Regions from separate parts of the Homo sapiens genome. Here regions 1 and 3 are each reported to be linked to region 2. The links are microRNA targets in miRTarBase. Many come from high-throughput screens and were not tested one by one. Region 2 holds a microRNA gene; each other region holds the end of a gene's coding sequence.
Evidence for each region. The annotated mature microRNA hsa-miR-577 reads UAGAUAAAAUAUUGGUACCUG and lies in region 2 at 1,139-1,159, shown strand. An mRNA with a match to its seed (bases 2 to 7 or 8) in the 3' UTR can be bound and repressed. Matches are read on the target gene's strand: a 7mer-m8 pairs with bases 2 to 8, a 7mer-A1 pairs with bases 2 to 7 and ends in A, and an 8mer does both.

Region 1 (4,000 bases), not on the chromosome of region 2:
CTTGCACACTCATTGCCAGACGTTGCCACCTGTTTTATATGTCTGTCTTCTGAACAAAACAAATTCCCTGTTGGCAAGGACGGTGGTATAAACCACCTTTGTATCCTTCAAGAAGCCCAACACATTGCTGAGTATATTGCAGGCCTCTAATAAATGCTTTAAATTGAAACGTGGTAATGATGTTTTAGAAAGAATGAGAATGACCATTTGTGTTTTCTTCTCTACCTCCAGTCAAGTATCATCACGTGGGCAAACTGCTGAAGGAGGGGGAGGAGCCCACTGTGTACTCAGATGAGGAAGAACCAAAAGATGAGAGTGCCCGGAAAAATGATTAAAGCATTCAGTGGAAGTATATCTATTTTTGTATTTTGCAAAATCATTTGTAACAGTCCACTCTGTCTTTAAAACATAGTGATTACAATATTTAGAAAGTTTTGAGCACTTGCTATAAGTTTTTTAATTAACATCACTAGTGACACTAATAAAATTAACTTCTTAGAATGCATGATGTGTTTGTGTGTCACAAATCCAGAAAGTGAACTGCAGTGCTGTAATACACATGTTAATACTGTTTTTCTTCTATCTGTAGTTAGTACAGGATGAATTTAAATGTGTTTTTCCTGAGAGACAAGGAAGACTTGGGTATTTCCCAAAACAGGTAAAAATCTTAAATGTGCACCAAGAGCAAAGGATCAACTTTTAGTCATGATGTTCTGTAAAGACAACAAATCCCTTTTTTTTTCTCAATTGACTTAACTGCATGATTTCTGTTTTATCTACCTCTAAAGCAAATCTGCAGTGTTCCAAAGACTTTGGTATGGATTAAGCGCTGTCCAGTAACAAAATGAAATCTCAAAACAGAGCTCAGCTGCAAAAAAGCATATTTTCTGTGTTTCTGGACTGCACTGTTGTCCTTGCCCTCACATAGACACTCAGACACCCTCACAAACACAGTAGTCTATAGTTAGGATTAAAATAGGATCTGAACATTCAAAAGAAAGCTTTGGAAAAAAAGAGCTGGCTGGCCTAAAAACCTAAATATATGATGAAGATTGTAGGACTGTCTTCCCAAGCCCCATGTTCATGGTGGGGCAATGGTTATTTGGTTATTTTACTCAATTGGTTACTCTCATTTGAAATGAGGGAGGGACATACAGAATAGGAACAGGTGTTTGCTCTCCTAAGAGCCTTCATGCACACCCCTGAACCACGAGGAAACAGTACAGTCGCTAGTCAAGTGGTTTTTAAAGTAAAGTATATTCATAAGGTAACAGTTATTCTGTTGTTATAAAACTATACCCACTGCAAAAGTAGTAGTCAAGTGTCTAGGTCTTTGATATTGCTCTTTTGGTTAACACTAAGCTTAAGTAGACTATACAGTTGTATGAATTTGTAAAAGTATATGAACACCTAGTGAGATTTCAAACTTGTAATTGTGGTTAAATAGTCATTGTATTTTCTTGTGAACTGTGTTTTATGATTTTACCTCAAATCAGAAAACAAAATGATGTGCTTTGGTCAGTTAATAAAAATGGTTTTACCCACTATAGTGTGGTGACTTATTTAAATTTTTTTAAAAACCTTATTCTAGGGAATCTGATTCAGACATTTTACTTTGGCTTAAAATTCAGTTTCATTTTTGAGTGCAGAGTTTTTGTATTCCAAAAGAAACAAGGGGCAAAATTTCATGGAGACCCCACACCAAAAACCAAATACCAGCTTGTCCTGTTTAAGAAATAGTGAATTGAATTGCTTTTTTTGTGACTTGTCAAAGTTTTGCCTAAATCAGAACTTTCTAAACTGTAAATGGCAGACCTCCACCTTGAAGTCTATAGCAAGGTTCTTAAGAAGTAAGGTTACTGAAGGCATTGTCATTGCCAAGTGCTAAGGAAGGGTTTGGGTTTTTTTGTGTTAATGTATTGTCTGATCAGGAAAGTATCAGGAATCCTTACAGTAGCAAAGTTAATTCACCTCGTGTCAAAAGAAGCATAACAGATTTGCATATGCAGTCAGTTGTATAAACAAAGACAACCTATTAGTGTTTTGTCATTTTAATGTTAACATTGGCAGAGTTTTCTTATAAGAGATATACTTCCTGAACCAAAGAAATTTCCATTTTTCATGTTATCAAACCACATTGCAGGTACTTGTGAGTTTTTTTTAATGTGCTCTTTTTTTTTCCCACTTGGTTTCATTCACCAAATGTTTGAGTGCCTGTTTTGTGCCATGTAACCTGTTATGCCTTATGCTTTGGAGAAGGAGTGGGGGAGAGAAGTTGGGCCCACCTTCGCAGCCTGAAATCTCATGTGCATGTGAAGATTAGGCTACTCATTTTGCAAAGTTAAACAGGCTTGTCTGCTGCCAAGAGGAAAATATCCAGAGCAAGCTTGTCCAACCCATGGCCCACGGGCTGCATGCGGCCCAGGAAAGCTTTGAATGTAGCTCAACACAAATTTGTAAACTTTCTTAAAACATGAGGTTTTTTTTGCAATTTTTTTTTTTTTTTTAGCTCATCAGCTCTCGTTAGTGTTAGTGTATTTTATGTGTGGCCTAAGACAGTTCTTCCAATGTGGCCCAGGGAAGCGAAGAGATTAGGCACCCCTGATTTAGAGCCTCACTAAAGTTTCACTCCCAATAACCTGATTCTCTTCCATTCAGAGCTGAATCAACATTGTGTTGGTTACTTGGAAAGGAATATTGCTGTAAGGCAGGACTTTGATCTAAAAACTTCTCAAATCCAGCTAGCATATACATAAGCCATATTCATGTAAAAGGCACCATTCAAGAAGATGGTGGTGTCGGGGGGAGGGGGGGTAGTTGTTACAACCACCACATGTCCAGTGAAGGAGGGAGGTGTTAGGTTAACATCTGGCTTGCTCCCCACCTGCTGTCATCCTACCAGCTGCAGAGACAGTTTGTTCTCAACTAGCGTCTGTGGTTCATAAGCAGCATTTACTACGTGTTTTCAGTATCTGCATATCTGGCTTCCCTGCATAATGTAACATTCACCTTACTTCAGAGGGCCAAATTTATGCAAATCCTAGATCAAGAACAAGCATCAATACATTTCTTGCTGTTTCAGAAAGAGCTCTTTGAACCTGACGGACGCTTTCAGCTCTAAAGTGCCCAGATTTTACTCCAAGGTAGTCTGCCTTTGTTATGATACTTAGAGGCAGTTTGCTGTATATTTCACATGAAAATACAGTTAACTCTTGAATGGTCAAAGACTGATTATTGAGGCCCCTACCTTCTCTGACTAGACTGTCCATCCCAAACCCATAATTGTTTTTGCACATTGTATAACTTGAACACTTCCACCCAGGGCTGAAGGAATTAGGTGAAATTCCATGGAGTCAATTTTGCTACCTCTTATTAGCACTGATAAAATGTGCTAAAGGGAGGATCATCTTAAATCTAAATAACATTATTTCGGTTTGTCCAAAATGAAAATAAAACTATGGTCTTTAGTCCCATGAACTCTGACAATGTCAGTTTCCACAAAATGGGAAAAGTTGCATAGAAATGATATTAAAATTAGGCATCTATATTTCCACAGAAAATGTTATTGTGGATGTGCAACATGCTAGCCAATACATGTGATAAATGAACAAAGAATATTCACTATGATAATTTTATTTTTAATATATCTGACAAATATGTATTCTCTAACAATGCAAATGAGAAAAGAGATCAGCAACATTAGTGCAAAGCAGCATACTGTAAGTAGGAACTTTCCCCCAAAGGTGGACTTATCAGCATTTATTTAAAAATGACTATTTTAAACAATTTTGCAACAAGTAAAAATAAGTTTATTTGATTCTTATTTTCAAAATTACCAGGTTACATGGCTTTCTACCTGAGAAATTTAAACAAATTGAAAGCACATTGACATATTTTTAGTTTTTTTGCATAACTACCAACAACTCATAAGAAAAACATGAAAATACCTTAAGACAAAGTTTAAAGCTCAGGCCCTTAATAGGACATAGAAAAAGATATG
Region 2 (4,148 bases):
ACAATAAGATTTCTATATGATACCCTGTCACCCTCCAAAACATTGATATATATTTTGTGCACATGAGGGCATTTTTCTGCATAATCACAATACAAACCATAAAAATAAGGAAATTAACAATGATATATTACTACCATCTAAGTTTTACACCTCAATGAAGTTTTGTGAGAGCCACTAATAATGTCCTTAATAAGGAAAGGATCCAGTTCAGAATTATCAGTGGCCTTTATTTGCTATGTCTTTAGGCTCCTTCTTGAACACTTACTCAGTGTTTCTTAGATTCTCATTGTTTTGATGTTGTTGAAGGATATCGGCCTGTTGTATAGAATGTCCCTCAATTTGGGTTTATCATTTGTTCCTCATAATTGGATTCAGGTTTTGCATCCTTACAGGAATATCACAGAAGGGATGCTATATTCTGCATGTTGCATCTGATTAGGTGGTACGTGATTTTGACTTGCTTCATTATTGATGATGTCCACTTTAATCGTTTGATTAAGGTGTTACTTACAAGACTTCTTTGCTGTCACATTACTAATTTTACTTGGTAGTCAGAATTGGAAGCTATGTAAATATTTCTCATCAGTCTCTGTGTCTTTATGGCATAATACTGATTATCATGAAAAAAATTGAGTGTTTTCTTTTTGTTTTTGTTTTTTTTTCTGGAAAGAAAGGAGGCAGACAGATTAGCTAGCAAGACTGCCTTTCTTTTGTTTATGTAGGTCACATAATTTAGTAGCTAAGCTTGATTTTTGAAAGGAGACATTTCTTTAAAGTGCTCAATAATTTGTTTAAAGTTCTAGGGAAACGACAGTGTTATTTATCCTGTTAACTGAATGGCAAAATAAAGCAGTGTACTTGCTGTTTATCCTTTCAAAGACTTAGATTACTATTAGCTTTCTTGATTTATTAAAAGAAATAAGTATTGAGCACCTACTGCATCTTACACCTAGGAGAAGAAAAGTCTTGTGAATAAACTCACATGCTACAAGAAGTGTGGTAGGTGCCCTGTTGAAAGAACAGGTCTCACAGGGGAGAACAATAGAGGAGATACTTTGTTGTGATCTTGGTAAATAACTGTGACCTGAGGGGGAAGTTTCAGGCACCCAAGGCAGGCTGTATTTGGGGGAGTGAAGAGTAGATAAAATATTGGTACCTGATGAATCTGAGGCCAGGTTTCAATACTTTATCTGCTCTTCATTTCCCCATATCTACTTACTGTAGGTACGGCCTCATTAAAAAATATAAACTCTCTGAAGACAGAACATTTTGTTTATTTATTCTTTGATATGTCCCAAGTGTCAGATATGGTACATAGCAGCTGGTCATGGCTATCAAATAATCATTTATCAAATAGTGACCCAGAAATTAGGTGGGTTTCCAAGTCCATTAATCAAATTTCTTTTGTAACGTAAGAAAGATTTAGATATCATTTCCGTAGTGATTTTTTTTTTCTGGTGAGAGTTTCACCTCCGTTTATTATTTTTGTCCTTTTTTTCTATCTCGTGGTTACTTTCCATATCTCCTCAGTACCTTGCCATCATCATATCCTCGGGATGTCCCTGCTGCTTGTGTTCAGTTCCTTGAAGGTCTTAAGAACCTTGAAAATTTAACTTTTCAAAGTCAAATCAGGGTTTCAAATTTTGCTTACTTATTTTAATTGTAACTGTACTGGCAAAATTAATCAAGCTCACAATGAAGAAAAACCGATACTGCAGAATCTCAGTGGAAATGAATACACCCTTCTGGGTGCTTATTTCATTCTCCTGAACTTTCACTGTGTTGAAGGCATCTTTTGAGATTTTAAAAATAGAACCATTGCCTTGACATTGATCTCTCTATTGCTTCTGTAGCGTAATTGTAGTTTATACCCTTCTAGATGATCTGGGAAATCATTTGAGTTTTCTGAAAAACTGAAAACTAGATTTGATGCTGCATGTGAACATTTTTGGTACTACTTTTCATTTATGTATTTTAAACAACTTTATTCTGAAAAGTCCAAAACATAGTGAACAAATACAACTGAGAGAAAATATCTTGGTGCAGAATGACCTTTTTTTTTTTCCTTTTCTCAATGTGGATATCATTTCAGTCCATAATCTGTGTATTACTTATCAGATATCATGGCCAGGGAAGAGAACAGCATAATTTTTAGTTGACAAAGCACTTTTATATATTTAATCTCATTTAATCTCTGCAGTGTGCTTGTAAAGTATCGTAAGTGTTTTTAGAGATGAGGAAGCTGGGCCTCAGAGAGAATAGGTGGCATCATTAAGATCATACAGCAAATTGTGGAATTGGGGTTTGAAGCAAGCCTCTTGCCAAACAAATCAGTGAAAACAATGATTGGTGCATTTTTATTTTGAATGGTGACCTTTATATTTTCAGTGTTGTTTGTTGTTGTTGTTTAATAAGTCTTGGTTAACTATATTAGCAGTAGTCAGAGATCACATTTGATATCCCAAGATTTTTTTAAGAGCATTTGCTATCAAAATGTTCACTATCATTTTACCTACTAAATTTTGCAGAATGAAATTCTTTGCAACCCACCTGACCAAAGCAGAGCATTCTTTGTATCAGAAATATTAAATGGGAAAAGAGGCCTATTGATGTTGGTGTTGGGAATAAGAAAAGGAACTCCAACACCCACCCCCCTCATCTCCCATTATCATCTCTGTGTAGGATTCTCTCACAGTCCAGGCATTCTTTTCCTCAGAATGGATGGGGCCAACAAAGGATGCAGTGTTATAGGTTTCTCTACTGTGCTGGCCCCTTCTCAAGGCTCCCATTCTTGGAGGAGAGAAAAGAGTGGGTTTGGGTTGCAGGCTGGTATCAGGAGAGATCTGGAGTGCAAACATGACAGCCTAGTGTGTCCCCACACCTCAGACCTGTTATCCTCTCTAGAGGTCTAAAAGACTCTGATGTCCTCAGAATCCAGGATAGCAAGGATGGAGGTGGGCTTGCACCGTTCAACTTTTAATTATACTTGCACTGTTTCTGAAGCTCATTTTTTAAGAAGCTACTTACAATTTTCTTGCATTGGGATGTGTTTTACATTGGCCACAATGAATAAAAAAAAATTGTTTATTTTCGGATAGGGGGATGAGTATATTTTTAAGAAGGCATTACCCAATGAGTGTCTTCTTTAAAAGTTTCAAGATCTTGCTTTCCACTTCTTTGAATATTTTTTCACCATCTTCCATTGTTTGACATCCCTAATATCAAAACATTACCTGAAAATAATGAAAATTTTATACTTTGGGAGTAGTTGCTCCCCGAGTCTGACTCTGGTACATTGCTTAGCTTCTGTTCTGCCCCATCTCCAGCCTCACAGAGCCAGGCTGCTTTACCGGCTTAAGCTGGACAGTACCACATGGAGGGACATGGGAGGACAACAAGCCCCTCACTACATTCTTCCTGTGGTCCAGTCAAGGCATTTGGTATATAATTACTCTAGGATAAGAAATCTGGCAATACTAGAAACAAATCAGTGTCTATCCGGATCACGATCATTAAAATAAATGCAAATACTTAACATATAGCATCTGATTATAGGAAATAGAATGTATATTATCCATATTTCCTTATTATGCTACCTTTTCCCATAAAAGACTTCAAACAGATGACTTAATCCTACAAGAAGATAAAATGATTATTTTTATTGTAAGGTTGTCTTTTCAAAAGACATAGAAAATTACTTTATAGCTATAAACAAAATTACTTTATAGATATCTGTTACTTAAGTTGCATAGGAATGGAATTATTCATTCTGATATAGTGAGGGGAGTGCCTATGAGTGTTGCTGATTTCTGGTTCAGTATTTGGTCCCTTATTGTGATCATTTTCTTTTCAATTTGAAGATGTCAGTTTTTCCCCTATACCCATAGAAGTAGTCCGGGATTGGGCATGTAAGCAGGTTGAGCCCAGATGTCGCTCCATTCCTGTCCTGCCATCTAGTGGAGAAATGTGCATGCAGTGCTGGTCTACGTACAAGACGATGCAATTTCTAAATTCCTGTATTGAGTGAAATGGAAGGCTTATTCTGTACCTTATCCACAAATATTCATAACTTACTTAAGAAGTAGTAGTACTGGTAGTAAATGGCCATTGATGAGTTACCAAAAAAGATGGGTCCTTAAAAATATGCT
Region 3 (4,000 bases), not on the chromosome of region 2:
AGTCACAGCTGCTCTAGCTAGTGACTTTAGAAATCTGTTCTGGCTGTGATTGCTAAGCGTCACCTTAAGAACAGCACACTCTTGCCCTGGGGCTCAGGAGCTCGTTTGTCCTGTCTGTCCTGCAGGACTTAGAAAGGGCCGGCAGCAGGAGCAGCAGCTGGGCCGGGCAGGGGAGGTATCGGGTGGGGGCCCTAGTCTTCAATAGTGTCTCATCTCCCTCGCTGGCCTCTGTGGGGCCTGCTGAGAGCAGCCTCGGCAGCAGCACGACTGTGTCCTGTTCCTCGAGCAGGGTCCCTTGCTGCAGGCCACCCTCTGCTGAGGCCTGACCATTGCTCTCTGGCTCCAGGGGTGCAGGAAAAGCTGGGTGTGATGAACAAAGGTGTGGCGTATGCTCTGTGGGACTACGAGGCCCAGAACAGTGACGAGCTGTCCTTCCACGAAGGGGACGCCCTCACCATCCTGAGGCGCAAGGACGAAAGCGAGACTGAGTGGTGGTGGGCTCGCCTTGGAGACCGGGAGGGCTATGTGCCCAAAAACCTGCTGGGGGTGAGCACTCAGGTTACTTACTGGGAAACTAGCTGCCCGTGTCTCTGTACAGCATGCGGTCCTATCCTGCTGTGGGGCTGGGGAGGGAGGCTTCGCTTCTCTGAGCCTCAGCAGCCCCCTCTGTAGAGGGGGAGGTGCCTACTTGGCAGAGCTGGCATGAGGCTCAGGCAGGGCCCCAGGAGGTTCCCCCAGCCATGCTTATGCCATGGAGGCCCGTGCGGAGGCTGAGTGCCCCAGTGAGGGGCCGCTCAATGAGCTCGGTTCATGATGAACTTCACCAAGTGGCCCGGCTCAGCCCACCCACACTTTCCCCAATCTAGAAATCTCTGCAGCCTAGAAATTTCTCCAGTGGAGGGAGAGGTGGGAACGTGCAGGCTGCTAGCTCTGTGTTGGACTTGTGATTCCCTCAGTCCTCTGGCAGAGGGAGCTGCCTCTGCTCTCTTTGTGCCCTGCAGAGCTGCCAGGGGCTTGCTGTTGAGCCAACGTTCTTGGCCAGGCAAACACAGCAGGGAGCCAGGCAGAGACCCTTGCCCAGGGGAGCTTATGACCTTGAGAGCCACAGGCAGTCACAAGTCTTTAGGTGGCATGAAGTGTTGTGAGAAAAATAGGATATTCTGGGGGTACAAGGCACATTTTAAAGAGGGCTGGGTGGGTCTCAGTGTAGAGGTGCAGCTGAGCGTAGGCCTGAGGGACAAGGGTGCTGCACGGCTGTCCAGGGTGGCTGAGGTGAGGAGCAGGGGTCGGGTCTGGCTGGCCCTGCTCCCTGTGTGTGGCTTCCTGTCCTGACGCGGCTCCGTTGCTTCCCAGCTGTATCCACGGATCAAACCCCGACAGCGAACACTCGCCTGAACTTCCTTTTGGAGCACCGCATGGTCTTGCCAGCTACCAGGAGCCACTTAAGAGATTATTGTGCTGTTTTCCAGGAAAGCTGCAGCTAGAAAATGGTCTTAATGGTGCTCACTTTAGCAGACAGCGTCCACAATGTGAATCCTACAGTTTCCAGGTGAGGCCCTTTCTCCAGTTTGCCCATTAACTGGGAGAGGTACTTTCGCCTCCAAGGACTGAATTTTGCCAATTACTATAAATCCAAATAAATACCCACTTTCAAAACACCCACCCCTCTTGCCATTAAGAAGTCCCATAACCCCCGGTTGGTTGCCAGTGAAGACAGAAGCTCTTACTGACTTGGCCCCGAGGCCATCACCCCCTCCAGCAGTGAACACTGTCCGCCGCTGTGAGGCCTGCTCCCCTGCGACCGCCCTGCCCCCCGTCACCGAATCGGACACTCATCCTTTCTCACACTTCCCACACATGATCCTTCTTCCCTTCATCACCAAAGGAGCCTCTGTATGGAAACATGTCCAGTGTTGCTGCCCAGTGTGTATGCCTCCCAGTACCCACTCTGCTCGGCCGCCTTGGGGGTTCCGCTTCCTGTTCCAGTTCACCTAAAGGCTGATTGTGCAGGCCCAGCACTGTGGCTGGACTGCCGCGCCACGGGCACCAGGACCCCTAAGACCAAGTGACAACTGGGAGAGCCTCAGCATATACTCTTCTCCTCCGATCTCACAGCCTGTCATGCTGCTCAGTGTGGTTCTCACCCCTGCAAGCTCAAATTCAGTTCCCTGAATGGAGTCAGGTGCTGGAGGCCGTGGCAGCGGAGGGTGGTTGGGGTTGGGGCTGGGGGTGGACTGGTGTGAGGGCAGACCAGGGCCAGGTAGACGGGGCTGTTTGGTGCCTGAAGGATGGCAGACGCCTGGTGTCAGGAGGGGCCGCCACCAAGGAGCAGCAGCTGGGGCAGAGGAGCTGGGGTCAGGGGCCACCCCTCTCTGCCGATCTCCCTGCCTGGGCTGGCTGTGAGGCCACCTTTGTCCCAGGCCCAGCCTCAAGGCAAGGAGGGCGCTTCACTGAGGTGTGAATTGTACGTACAGGCTTTTTATATACCAAAAGTATTTTTTGACTAGACCATTCAAAGCTACCCGAACTATGTTGGAAATTTTTTTTTTCTCATTAAAATACAGGCCCTTAGGCTCTATTTTTCATGTATGAGTCGTGTGTAATTTATGTAAAAATGTGTGTACAGACTCACTGATGCAGCACTGTAGCCCATCACCTTGGAGCACTGACTGTACATAGTGTGGTGAAGAAAAGTGAACGCCCTTGTAGAGCAGCCCGACCACAGGAGCATGGCCGCTGCCAGCCCAGACGCTGCTGACGCTGTGTAAATGTGCACAATAAACCCGTCTCACCCCGGCGGCTGTGAGTCTTCTTTCTGGACCCAGACTGCGCTGTGGCACGAGGGTTCAGGTGATCTGGACACAGGAAGGCGAGGCCTTGTCCGTATGTTCAAAATAGTTTTTAATCATAAGCTTTATATACAAATTGCTGTACAGTCATCTTAATAAAGTGAAATAGTGAGTGAAAAGTACAAAACACAAAGCCCCCACGTTCCCCTTGGTGAAGTATCAAAGGATCACTCACAGCCCAGAAGCCCCAAATTAGTGACAAGGTAAGTGGACAAGTCTGTGAAACAGGCTAAGGCAAGTGCTGTAAACTGGCTATTAGAGGCGAACAGGCTCCACTGCAGACCAGAAGCCTGAGTTCCTACTGCCCAAACTGGTTCTGTGGAAGAATTAAATGAAATGAATATTGATGGGCCAGAACCTTCTAGTAGACCTGCGAACTCATAAAAATGGTATATATTATGCTAAAAATAGTTTAGCAGTAGTGTAGCTCAGTCTCTCCCACCCCCAATTAAGTATTGACAATACACAAATTCTAAAACATGAAGCTGTTTAAAGCATTAATAAACTGTGAACATATTGCACTAGATAAGTGAACACTCCTGTTTCTCCAAATACATGAGTGAGTTGCATTTCCCAGCACAAGCAGGATTAATCCCTGTGGTACGCAAGGAGCAGGCTCTGCTGTTCCAAGCGACTCAGTCCTGGTGACCACACGTACTCCAAGCTCAGCCCCACGTAGAGTTACTGGTCCCGAGATTCATAGAGGAGCTTGGCAGCCTGCAGATCAGACAAGATCAACACAGTGAGGCCTGCTTGGTCCTGTGCCTGGTGGAGCCAAGCCTGTGTGCATTTCAGGGGAGATGGCGTGGGCACCCCAGCTGAGGGGGAACAGGTTGTGGGGATAGGGGGCAAATGGCAGGACACAGAGCTTCCTCTGGGAAAGGCAAGCTTTTGTCTAAGCCAAAGGGCCCAGCCTCCCTGGCCTGGGCTCAGGTACCTTGTGCATGGCCACTAGCCACGCCACCGCCTGCCTCCTGCCCACAGTCACGTCCTCCACCACTGTCAGCTTCAGCTGGGTCACACCCTCCGTCCCCGGCACTGTATACTGCAGGAACATGCCTGTGGCCCGTGCGTTGCCTCCTGGAGGAGAGAGACGAGGTAAGACGGCCCAAAGGAGGCCCTGAGTGCCCAGGCGGCCACCAGCCCCAAGG

Region 1: the mRNA of PGRMC1 is a reported target of hsa-miR-577. Seed matches in the 3' UTR shown: 8mer at 772-779.
Region 3: miRTarBase lists ZFYVE21 as a target of hsa-miR-577. Seed matches in the 3' UTR shown: 7mer-A1 at 3,372-3,378.

Annotation. Positions count from the first base shown.
Region 1 is chrX:119,242,920-119,246,919 of GRCh38, forward strand. PGRMC1 (progesterone receptor membrane component 1) reads left to right here. Exons shown (of 3, transcript NM_006667.5): 3 at 232-1,547. The coding sequence ends at 335. It also overlaps the pseudogene AKAP17BP. Among named protein-coding and RNA genes, the nearest start is that of PGRMC1, 8.6 kb to the left of the region's middle.
Region 2 is chr4:114,655,636-114,659,783 of GRCh38, forward strand. It overlaps MIR577 (microRNA 577), which reads left to right and starts at 1,124; the gene lies at 1,124-1,219. The region is part of intron 2 of UGT8 (UDP glycosyltransferase 8); the gene reads left to right.
Region 3 is chr14:103,732,549-103,736,548 of GRCh38, reverse strand. It overlaps ZFYVE21 (zinc finger FYVE-type containing 21), which reads right to left. Exons shown (of 7, transcript NM_024071.4): 6 at 3,787-3,929; 7 at 2,885-3,566. The coding sequence ends at 3,531. PPP1R13B (protein phosphatase 1 regulatory subunit 13B) reads left to right here. Exons shown (of 17, transcript NM_015316.3): 16 at 347-546; 17 at 1,354-3,354. The coding sequence ends at 1,395. Among named protein-coding and RNA genes, the nearest start is that of ZFYVE21, 19 kb to the right of the region's middle.